Homo sapiens: one gene and its partners. The protein of the gene in region 3 interacts with the protein of the main gene of each other region in a biochemical or structural test. Each region holds a gene or a part of one and is shown on either strand. Other genes may lie near its edges.

What was found. Proteins that work in one complex are often made in the same cells at the same time.
Region 1: the proteins of RPS15A (region 3) and UBE3A form a complex in vitro, tested with the Homo sapiens proteins (one large-scale study listed by BioGRID).
Region 2: the proteins of RPS15A (region 3) and RIOK1 are reported together in a solved structure, tested with the Homo sapiens proteins (one study listed by BioGRID).

Annotation. Positions count from the first base shown.
Region 1 is NC_000015.10:25,429,025-25,432,524, forward strand, and holds part of UBE3A (ubiquitin-protein ligase E3A), read right to left. Parts: intron 1-3,500. UniProt on the Homo sapiens protein: E3 ubiquitin-protein ligase which accepts ubiquitin from an E2 ubiquitin-conjugating enzyme in the form of a thioester and transfers it to its substrates.
Region 2 is NC_000006.12:7,406,808-7,410,307, reverse strand, and holds part of RIOK1 (serine/threonine-protein kinase RIO1), read right to left. Parts: intron 1-3,500. UniProt on the Homo sapiens protein: Involved in the final steps of cytoplasmic maturation of the 40S ribosomal subunit. Involved in processing of 18S-E pre-rRNA to the mature 18S rRNA. Required for the recycling of NOB1 and PNO1 from the late 40S precursor.
Region 3 is NC_000016.10:18,784,065-18,787,334, reverse strand, and holds part of RPS15A (small ribosomal subunit protein uS8), read left to right. Parts: intron 1-2,511; coding exon 2,512-2,597; intron 2,598-3,270.

The sequences.
Region 1 (3,500 bases), on a different chromosome or scaffold from region 3:
AACTGAATAAACTACATGTACACGCATCAACATATACACCTCAAAAACTTGATACTGAGTTTAAAAAAATCAAGCTATTGAAAGACAGCGTTATACATGTCTGTAAAAATTTAATACAAAAACCAACACCACATATCACTTACAGATACATGTACACATGTATAGTAAAAGTATAAAACAAGGATGTGAAATTTACTTAAGAATCTCAAGACAGTTGTTACTTTGTGTAGAGACGGGTAACAGGACTTGAACAGTTGGGGTTGTTAAAAGTGATTATATAACTGCATCCTTTCCCCCAAGGGATAAAAATGGACATAATTTATATTTCCAGGTGGTGGATAAATAGGCACTTGCTATGTCATTTTCTGGATGTTTTAAAAATTTTACAATTAAAACATATACACTTATTTTAAAAACAAACAAAAGACATATTAGCATATAATGTCCAAGCTGATAATTACCTTGGAAGATTATCTAATATAAACCTCCCTACTTCACTAAAAACAAAATTACAAAAGATATCAGAATAAAAATATGATACAGGCTGGACGCAGTGGCTCATGTCTATAATCCCAGCACTTTGGGACGCCAAGGCAGGAGGATCACTTGAGCCCAGGAGTCAAGACCAGGCTGGGTAATATAGTGAAACTTCATCTCTACAAAAACAAACAAACAAACATTTTTTTAAGAATGTAATAGGATTGGTGTGGTGGCTCATGCCTGTAATCCCAGTGCTTTCAGAGGTTGAGGCAGGCAGATCACCTGAGGTTAGGAGTTTGAAACCAGCATGGCCAACATGGTGAAACCCTGTATCTACTAAAAATACAAAAATTAGCCGGGCGTGGTAGTGCACACCTGTAGTCTCTGCTACTCAGGAGGCTGAGGCAGGAGAATCACTTGAACCCAGGAGGCGGAGGCTGCAGTGAGCTAAGACTGCACCATTGCACACCAGCCTGGGCAACAGGGCGAGACTACATCTCAGGAGGAAAAACAAAAAAAAACCTATATATATATATATATATATATTTATATGTATTATATATATATAATACATATATATAAGATTATATATATATTATATATATAATACATATATATAAGATTATATATATATTATATATATAATACATATATATAAGATTATATATATATTATATATATAATACATATATATAAGATTATATATATATTATATATATAATACATATATATAAGATTATATATATATTATATATATAATACATATATAAGATTATATATATAATATATATAATACATATATATAAGATTATATATATATTATATATATAATACATATATATAAGATAAATACTATTGTAGCAGGGCAATTTTGGACAAATACTAGGTTATCTGAAACAGCACTTTGGGGAATTAGATCTTGACCATTTAAGAGAGAGATTAGCCCCAGTTTCTCAAAATCTGGCACTGACTAGCAATATGGACAATGTGTGCACCGCCCTCGTTCCACCTCCCCTCCTAGGAATGCCATGTCAAATTCAGCACAGGCATAGGCAGTAAAACTGACCCCTAGTTCTGCCTATCACTATTTAAAATTACTTTAAGTGTTGAGGACTGTCCCCACAGCAGATATCTAAAAGTAGGCCTGAAAGAACTAGAAAGTAGTTCATGCATCCAGCAGTTACAAGTGCCTAAAACTGTACATGAAAAAACAAAACAAAGAAATGAACTGAGAGCAAACATTTACTGTTTTCTTATAATCTTCAATCCAGGATTTAAGAAATTATTTAATATCAGTTGAGATACGTGACCAACCCATTCTCCAGCTGAGATCCATCTATTTTTAAATTCACTCCCCCAGCCTTTCATTCAGCCTAAAAGAGGGAATAAGAATGGGAAGGTGGGAAGGACTTATCCCATACTGAGTTAAATAAGACCACAAGATCTTTTCATTTTTACAATATTTGAAATACAGTACACTGAGCAATAAATTTAAAGAAATATGCATGATTTGAAATGCAGAAATCTTGATTTATGTGTATAAAAGACCAAAATTAGCTCAGTTCGTCTAATACACTACACTTAAGTGTTCTTCAATACTACAGTCAACTTTTCAGAAATATTCCCATTCTGTGAAGCAGGATGTATTCCTACCTTGATTACCAAACTTTATCCACGTAACTTCCTATTCTCCCACTCTGTTCTTTAAACATGTTCAACATGTTACAGAGATGGCAAAATGTGTTACAAAAGGGAATGAGAATGAAGCAGCTTAAGTAATTAGGAAAACTTTACACTTCTTAGAAACTGAATTTGAATGATCTTAAACAGCATATTTTCTTTTCTTTTCTTTTCTTTTTTGAGATGAAATCTTGCTTGCCCAGGCTGGAGTGCAATGGTGTGATCTCAGCTCACTGCAACCTCTGCCTCCCAGGTTCAAGCGATTCTCGTGCCTCAGCCTCCCAAGTAACTGGGATTACAGACGTGTGCCACCACGCCTAGCTAATTTTTGTATTTTTAGTAGAGACAGGGTTTCACCATGTTGGCCAGGCTGGTCTCGAACTCCTGACCTCAGGTGATCCGTGTGCCTCGGCCTCCCAAAGTGCTGGGATTACAGGAGTGAGCCAAGGCGCCCAGCCTAAACAGCATATTTTCAATCACCAACACACAACATGACCACTGACTTCAGAAAACTAGGAAAGAAAAATGTTACCCAATTAATCTTTGTGTGAAACAGGATTTATCCATTAGTATACGTATCACATACCATAGATGCACAAAAGATTTTTTCAATTCCCAAAACAAAAACTTAAAATATTTAGCAAAGATAATATAAAAATCCTTATTTATGGCACGCTGTAAGATTATCAATATTGGTGCATATAACCACAGAGGCACAATAGAATTCTTAGGAAAAATGTATTAAGACAATTAACAAGCTGGAAATAACCCATATTTCCCCTTATGACCCATTAGCTTTATATAGAAAACACTGCTGTGCACTTCATCCTTTGCTTTCTAAAGAACAGCATTATGGTTCACATCTGTTAAGAGACAAAAAAGTATTTGTTGGAAGTACGAAAGGAAGAAATTCCTGTACTGTTACATGCAGTGCCAAAGGAATCATCTGAGAAGAAAATAAAGAACATGAGTTTAACATGAGCTTTAGAGAGGGATTACAAGAGTGCAAGAAAGTGACAAAATGTGACATATGTCCATAGTGAATACATGGTGCTTTATTGTTTTCAGTATTTCTATATTTAATTAGGAGGTGGAAAGTTTCAGAATTTATTCTGCATCACAAAGATTATAAAAATATATGAGTTGGGGTGTTGGCTACAGTACACAAAGGCAATTCTAAGACTACTTATTAACAGAAGCTTGAAATGGAAAAGCCATCCCTTCTGATTTCATTACATGAAAAGAACCTGTGTAGAAGTACAGCAATGGTAGCATCTTCATTCAGCCCACAGCTATGTAATTTGTATGCAAGAGTGCTTGTCTTAAATATGAAAAGGAAC
Region 2 (3,500 bases), on a different chromosome or scaffold from region 3:
ATTGTTCCAGTCTTTTTAAGTATCACCTCCTCACACTTAGGAAAGCATTTAGTGAGGTCTAATGGTACAAGTTAGCTTTCCAGCACAGACCTCACCAAAAAGGCTGCCATCAACCCAAAAGTAACAATAAATCAAACTCTTCTAGCCTAGGGGGATCCCTAGCCCCCCTTTTTCAAAAGTTATGCTACTTTTACTAAATTTAAATAATTAGCTTTTGCATTTAGTAAATGCTTTAGCATTTACTAAAGGAATACAGAGACCTAAAGAATGAAAGAACCATTCCTTAAATCCTGAGCAGTCGGCGAAGGGAATTGCAAAGGCTGGCTGTAAATCTTGAATATACGGCTTTATTGCTGCTGCACTGAAGAAAGCTCTCTGAGCAAACAATGACTGAAACGAGGGTGACAAAGATTCCAAAGGGTTCTTTTGGTTTGTAAAACTGAGTGTTCTCTTCTCTATATAGAAGAAAGGAAAAAATAGTGGGAGCAGAGGTTTTTTTTTTTTTTTTTTTTGAGTTTAGACACGAAAATCAGTGCTGACCCAGGCACAGTGGCTCACGCCTCTAATCCCAGCACTTTGGGAGGTGAGGCCAGCAGATCACCTGAGATCAGGAGTTTGTGACCAGCCTGGGCAATATGGGGAAACTCCGTCTCTACTAAAAATACAAAAATTAGGCCAGGTGCAGTCTAATTACAGGCTCATGCCTGTAATCCCAGCACTTTGGGAGGCTGAGGCTCACGCCTGTAATCCCAGCACTTTGGGAGGCTGAGGCTCACGTCTGTAATCCCAGCACTTTGGGAGGCTGAGGCGGCTGGATCATGAGATCAGGAGTTCCAGACCAGCCTAGTCAACATGGTGAAAACCCGTCTCTACTAAAAACACAAAAATTAGCCAGGCATGCTAACATGCACCTGAAATCTCAGTTACTTGGAGGCTGAGGCAGGAGAATCACTTGAACCCGGGAGGCAGAGGTTGTGGTGAGCCGAGATCGTGCCACTGTACTCCAGCATGGGTGAGAGAGCCAGACTCCATCTCAAACACACACACACACACACACACACACACACACACACACACACACACACACACACACAATTAGTCGGGAGTGGTGGTGGGCTCCTGTAATCCCAGCTACTGGGTGCCTGTAATCCCAGCTACTGGGGAGGCTGAGGCAGAAGAACTGCTTTAACCTGGGAGGCGGAGATTGCAGTGAGCCGAAATTGCACACTGCACTCCAGCCTGGGTGACAAGAGCGAAACTCCGTCAAAAAAATAAATAAATAAAAGAGGCCGGGTGCGGTGGCTCACACCTATGATCCCAGCACTTTGGGAGGCCGAGGCGGATGGATCACCTGAGGTCAGGAGTTCAAGGCCAGCCTGACCAACATGGAGAAACCCCATCTCTACTAAAAATACAAAATTAGCTGGGCATGGGGGCGCATGCCTGTAATCCCAGCTACTCGGGAGGCTGAGGCAGGAGAATCGCTTGAACCCAGGAAGCAAAGGTTGCAGTGAGCCGAGATTGCCCCACTGCACTCCAGCCTGGGCAACAAGAGGGAAACTCCATTTAAAAAAAAAAAAAAGAAAAAGAAAAAGAAAGTCAGTGCTAAGTTAAAAAGTTGAGGAATAAAAATGACACACTTATTTATTCCATTAACAGATGTGATTGCCTACTATGGGCCAGATATTGGGTACTTGGCAATAGAGAAAACTCCTGTTCCATAAAAGTTCATAATTGAGGGTGACAGAATTAGGGACTTAGTATAATAAGTGACACAGTGTGACTACTTCTATTATAGTTGTAGGAGACTACACCTATGAAAACAATTTCTGCTGAAATACCCCTCCAGAGAGCTTTCTAACTGGAGCTTTAAAGTTCACCAGGCGGAGCAAAGTTGAGCAAAGGCAGAAATGGGAAGGTATTGCAAGGAAATGGAAAAAGAGGAAAGGACAGGATAAAACCTGAAGACCTGGCCAGGCAAGGCGACTTATGCCTGTAATCCCAGCACTTTGGGAGGCCGAGGCAGGCGGATCTCCTGAGGTCAGGAGTTCGAGACTTGCCATGGCCAACATGGTGAAACCTTATCTCTACAAAAATACAAAAATTAGCTGGGCATGATGGCAGGTGCCCATAATCCCAGCTATTCAGGAGGCTGAGGTGGGAGAATCACTTGAATCCAGGAGGTGGAGGTTACAGTGAGCTGAGATTGTGCCATTGCACTCCAGCCTGGGCAACAGAACGAGACTCCATCTCAAAAACAAACAAACCTGAAAACCTGTGTAGAGGCATACATGCCATGTGTTCAAAACTCTATGATTCAGAGACAAAAATAAAAATAGATAAACTGGATCACATCAAAATTTAAAACTTCTGTGCATCAAAGCTTGCAATCAACAGAGTGAAAAGACAAGTCACAGAATGGGAATAAACATTTGCAAATCACGTATCTGACATATCCAGAAAATACAAACAACTCAACAAAAAAAACCAAACCTGATTAAAAAAAAGACATGGGGCTGGACACTGTGGCTCATGCCTGCAACCCCAGAACTTTGAGAGGCCGAGACAGAAGGAGTGCTTAAGCCCAGGAGTCTAAGACCAGACTGGAAAACACAGTGAGACCCTGTCCCAACAAAATGAAAAAGAAAAAAAAAATTGGCTGGGTGTCATGGTCTGCACCTATAGTCTCAGCAGGCTGAAGCAGCTGAGGCAGGAGAACTGCTTGAGTCTAGAAGGTTGAGACTGTAGTGAGACAGGATTGTACCACTGTACTTCAGACTGGGTAACAGAGAGACCCTGTCTCTTAAAAAAAAAAAAAAAGACATTTCTCCAAAGAAAATATATAAATGGGCAAGAAGCACATGAAAAGATGCTCAACGTCACTAGTAATCAGGGAAACACAAACCAAAACCATAATAACATACACCTCACACTCATTAGGGGGTCTCTCATTGTCAAAACAAAACAAAAAACAAAATAATAGGTGTTGGTGAGGGTATGGAGATTAGTAAGTGCTGGTGAGGATGTGGAGCGATTAAAACCCTTGTGCATTGTTGGTGGTAATGTAAAATGGTGCAGCCACTACAGTAAACAGTATGGTGGGTTCCTCAGAAACTTGAAAATAGAAATATCATTTGATCCAGCAATTCTACTTCTGGGTGTATATTCGAAAGAACTGAAAGCAGCATCTTGAAGAGATATTTATACATCCATGTTCATAGCAGCATTATTCAGAATAGCCAGAAGGTATAAGCAACCCGTATGTCCATCCACAGATGAATGGATAAACAAAATATAGTATATACATACACTGGACCATTATTCAGCCTTAAAAGAAGAAATCCTAGGCCAGGCGTGGTGACTCATGTCTGCAATCCCAGCACTTCGGGAGGCCGATGCAGGCGGGTCACTTAAGGCCAGGAGTTGGAGACCAGCCTGGCCAACATGGTGAAACCCTGTCTCTACCAAAAAATACCCAAATTAGCCGGGTGTAGTGGCTC
Region 3 (3,270 bases):
AAATGGAAAAGAGGGATGAGGAAGGGGCCTTACTGGCCCAACTAGAAACAGAAACTAAGAACCCATGACTGTATTCTCTCCCTTGGACACCCCTGTGTTTATTGCAACAGATAGGGGGGAAAGAGACCCAGAAGGTGAGTTGCTGAAGTATTTGTTAAAGATTTGAAGAACTAGCTGGGCACAGTGGGTCACGCCTGTAATCCCAGCACTTTGGGAGGCTGAGGCAGGCGGATCACGAGGTCAGGAGTTTGAGACAAGCCTGGCCAACATGGTGAAACCCTGTCTCTACTAAAAATAGAAAAACTAGCCAGGCGCAGTGGCGGGCGCTTGTAATCCCAGGTACTCCGGAGACTGAGGCAGGAGAATTGCTTGAACCTGGCAGGCGGAGGTTACAGTGAGCTGAGATCGCACCACTGCACTCCAGCCTGGGTAACAGGGCAAGACTCCCTAAGATTTGAAGAACTTGCAAGGGTAATTTTCAGTATGTCATGTTTTGTTCTAGTTGTAGCCATTAGAACCCCACCTCAAAATAGGATTGATTTATTTTTATTTATATTTCTTTTGAGATAGTCTTGCTCTGGTTGAGGCTGGAGTGCAGTGGCGCCATCTTGGCTCACTGCAGCTTCCCTAGCTCAAGCCATCCTCCCACCTCAGCCTCCTGAGTAGCTGGGGAATACAGGTGCATTCCACTGTGACTGCTGATTTTTCTTTAACTTTTTTGTAGAGGTGGGGTCTCGCTATGTTGCTTAGGTTTGTCTTGGACTCATGGGCTCAAGTGATCCTCCCACCTCAGCCTCCCAGAGTGCTGGGATTACAGGTGTGAGTCACTGGGCCCAGCCGAGAAATAAATTTGAACAGAGCATTCTGTAAATGGAACTTATTTGTGGCACCCTTGTTCTGTGGTATGCTAGTTTGAAAAATTCTAGCCTACAACAGTTGATATGCAGGCCCTGCTGCTCTCTGCCCGTTTTTTGAGACGGAGTCTCACTCTCACCCAGGTTGGAGTGCAGTGGCACGATCTTGGCTACTGCAACCTCTGTCTCCCAGGTTCAAGCGATTCTCCTGCCTCAGCCTCCCTAGTAGCTGAGATTACAGGTGAGTGCCACCATGCCCGGCTAATTTTTGTATCTTTGGTAAAGACGGGGTTTCGCCATGTTGGCCAGGCTGGTCTGGGACTCCTGACCTCAGGTGATCCACCGCGCCTGGCCTGTTCTGTGACTTTCGACAAAGCAAACAATTTTTGGTTTCTTGGAATTTCATTTCTCCCCATTTAAAAGAGAACGTCCCCCTCCATCGCTTTCATGCAAGACATGGACCTACCCTTAGCGTGGAAATTGAGCTTGGAAGTAAGGTAGTGTGTAAAGACTAGATTGATTAAAATTCTGGCCTTGATCACATCCTCTTACGATTCTTCTGGGTTGGGGGAGGGTATGCTGTTTTAATTCTACCAGAATGAGAAGAATTTTTGCTGCTGGAATCAACATAAAACTTGGATGCAGCGTGCGGCAGACTTTGGAAAGATCTTTCACTATAGCTTGCTTGGATAAAACTGGTTTTCCCATATTCCTATCCCTGCATTTCTTTCATCTGCCGTGAGATTGTCCTTGTTAGTCAAGTCACAGCATAGCTGATGGGGTAATAGTAGGAGAACTTAAGCAGGCTTCCTGGCGTAGAGCAGTTGGGCCTTTCTGACAAGCCCATTTTCAGTTTCTGTGGGTCAATCTCTGCTTTTGGAAGTGTTTTTCAAGTGTGCCTGTGATTTTAGAGCAGATTTTGTGAGCAGAGGGTCTTCAGTTAGTGGACATCAGTTAGTGGACTTTCTTCAGTAGTGTTTTAGGGCTGGCATGTAGTTGAGTGATGGCAGCCCTTGGCGAGCTTTTACTTGGGAGGATCATTGTTGCCATGTCCCAGTAGCCACGAGATGAGATAATTGCAGGCCCTTTGCTCTTTCTGCCTTCCATCATTCTGTCAGATTTGTTTGGAAAAATTTGTCTGGGGCTGTAGGACATTGTTTCTTGGAAATATGTAACGGTACTTCATTGGTGGGAGCAGCGTTCTTAGTTCAGTGCCTGGACAGCGTGTTCCTTAGATATTCTAATAATTTGTAGAGCTTCAGGATTTGAGACCCTATGATTTTATTTCAGCCTTATTATGTAAGAAAGGGTTGGCTGTAGTCTCTCTTGTCGAGACTTGATCTCTAGGCTATGTAAAATCTGATCATCCTGGACAGCTCTCCAGCCAACAGGGAGCACGCCAGTGGCCTGACACTGCCATGTATTGCCTTGTTCCATCTCTTTGCATGCCTTTGCTTTTTCTCCTAGGCAGGCGTAGTCTTACTTAGGTGTATTTTTTGAAAAGTATGTCAAGCATTGTGCACAGAATAAGTACCCATCTGAATGCTGGGTTGGTTGGTTTGGAGGACTGTTTATTTATGAATGTCATCTTGTGTTACTCAGTTTTTCTGTTATTGGTAAAGTGAAGAATGTTTTTGTTGTTGTTGTTATTTTATAGTGTGGGGTGATCAGCCCCAGATTTGACGTGCAACTCAAAGACCTGGAAAAATGGCAGAATAATCTGCTTCCATCCCGCCAGTTTGGGTAAGTTGGCCTTTCCTTAATTAAAAGAAGTTAATGCTAAGAATTTCTGTGGTGCAGTTTGACTTAAGGGTTTTTTTCTTTTTTTCTGTTTAAAACAAAGCAGTGGTAATTTGTCTACTCTTAACCATTTTGACCTAATAGCTCAAGTGTTATCCATATTTCTTTTCTCTCTCTTTAAAAAGAGACAGGGTTGGCCAGGCACAGTGGCTCACGCCTGTGATCCTAGCATTTTGGGAGGCTGAGGCAGGCGGATCACCTGAGGTTGGGAGTTCGAGACCACCCTGACCAACATGGAGAACCCCGTGTCTACCTAAAATACAAAATTAGCCAGGCCTGGTGGCACACACCTGTGATCCCAGCTACTTGAGAGGCTGAGGCAGGAAAATAGCTTGAACCCGGGAGAGAGGTTGCGGTGAGCTGAGATTGTGCCATTGCACTCCAGCCTGGGCAACGAGTGAAACTCTGTCTCGAGAAAAAAGAGAGAGAGACAGGGTTTCACTTTGTTGCCCAGGCTGGAGTGCAGTGGCTGTTCACAGGTGCGGTCATAACACGCTACAGCCTTGGCTTCTTGGCCTCGAGCAGTCCTCCCCGCTCAGCCTCTTGTGGATTTGGGAATACAGGCGCCTGCCACCGTGCCTGGCTATTTGCCACATTTCATGTGTTGAGCTTCAGG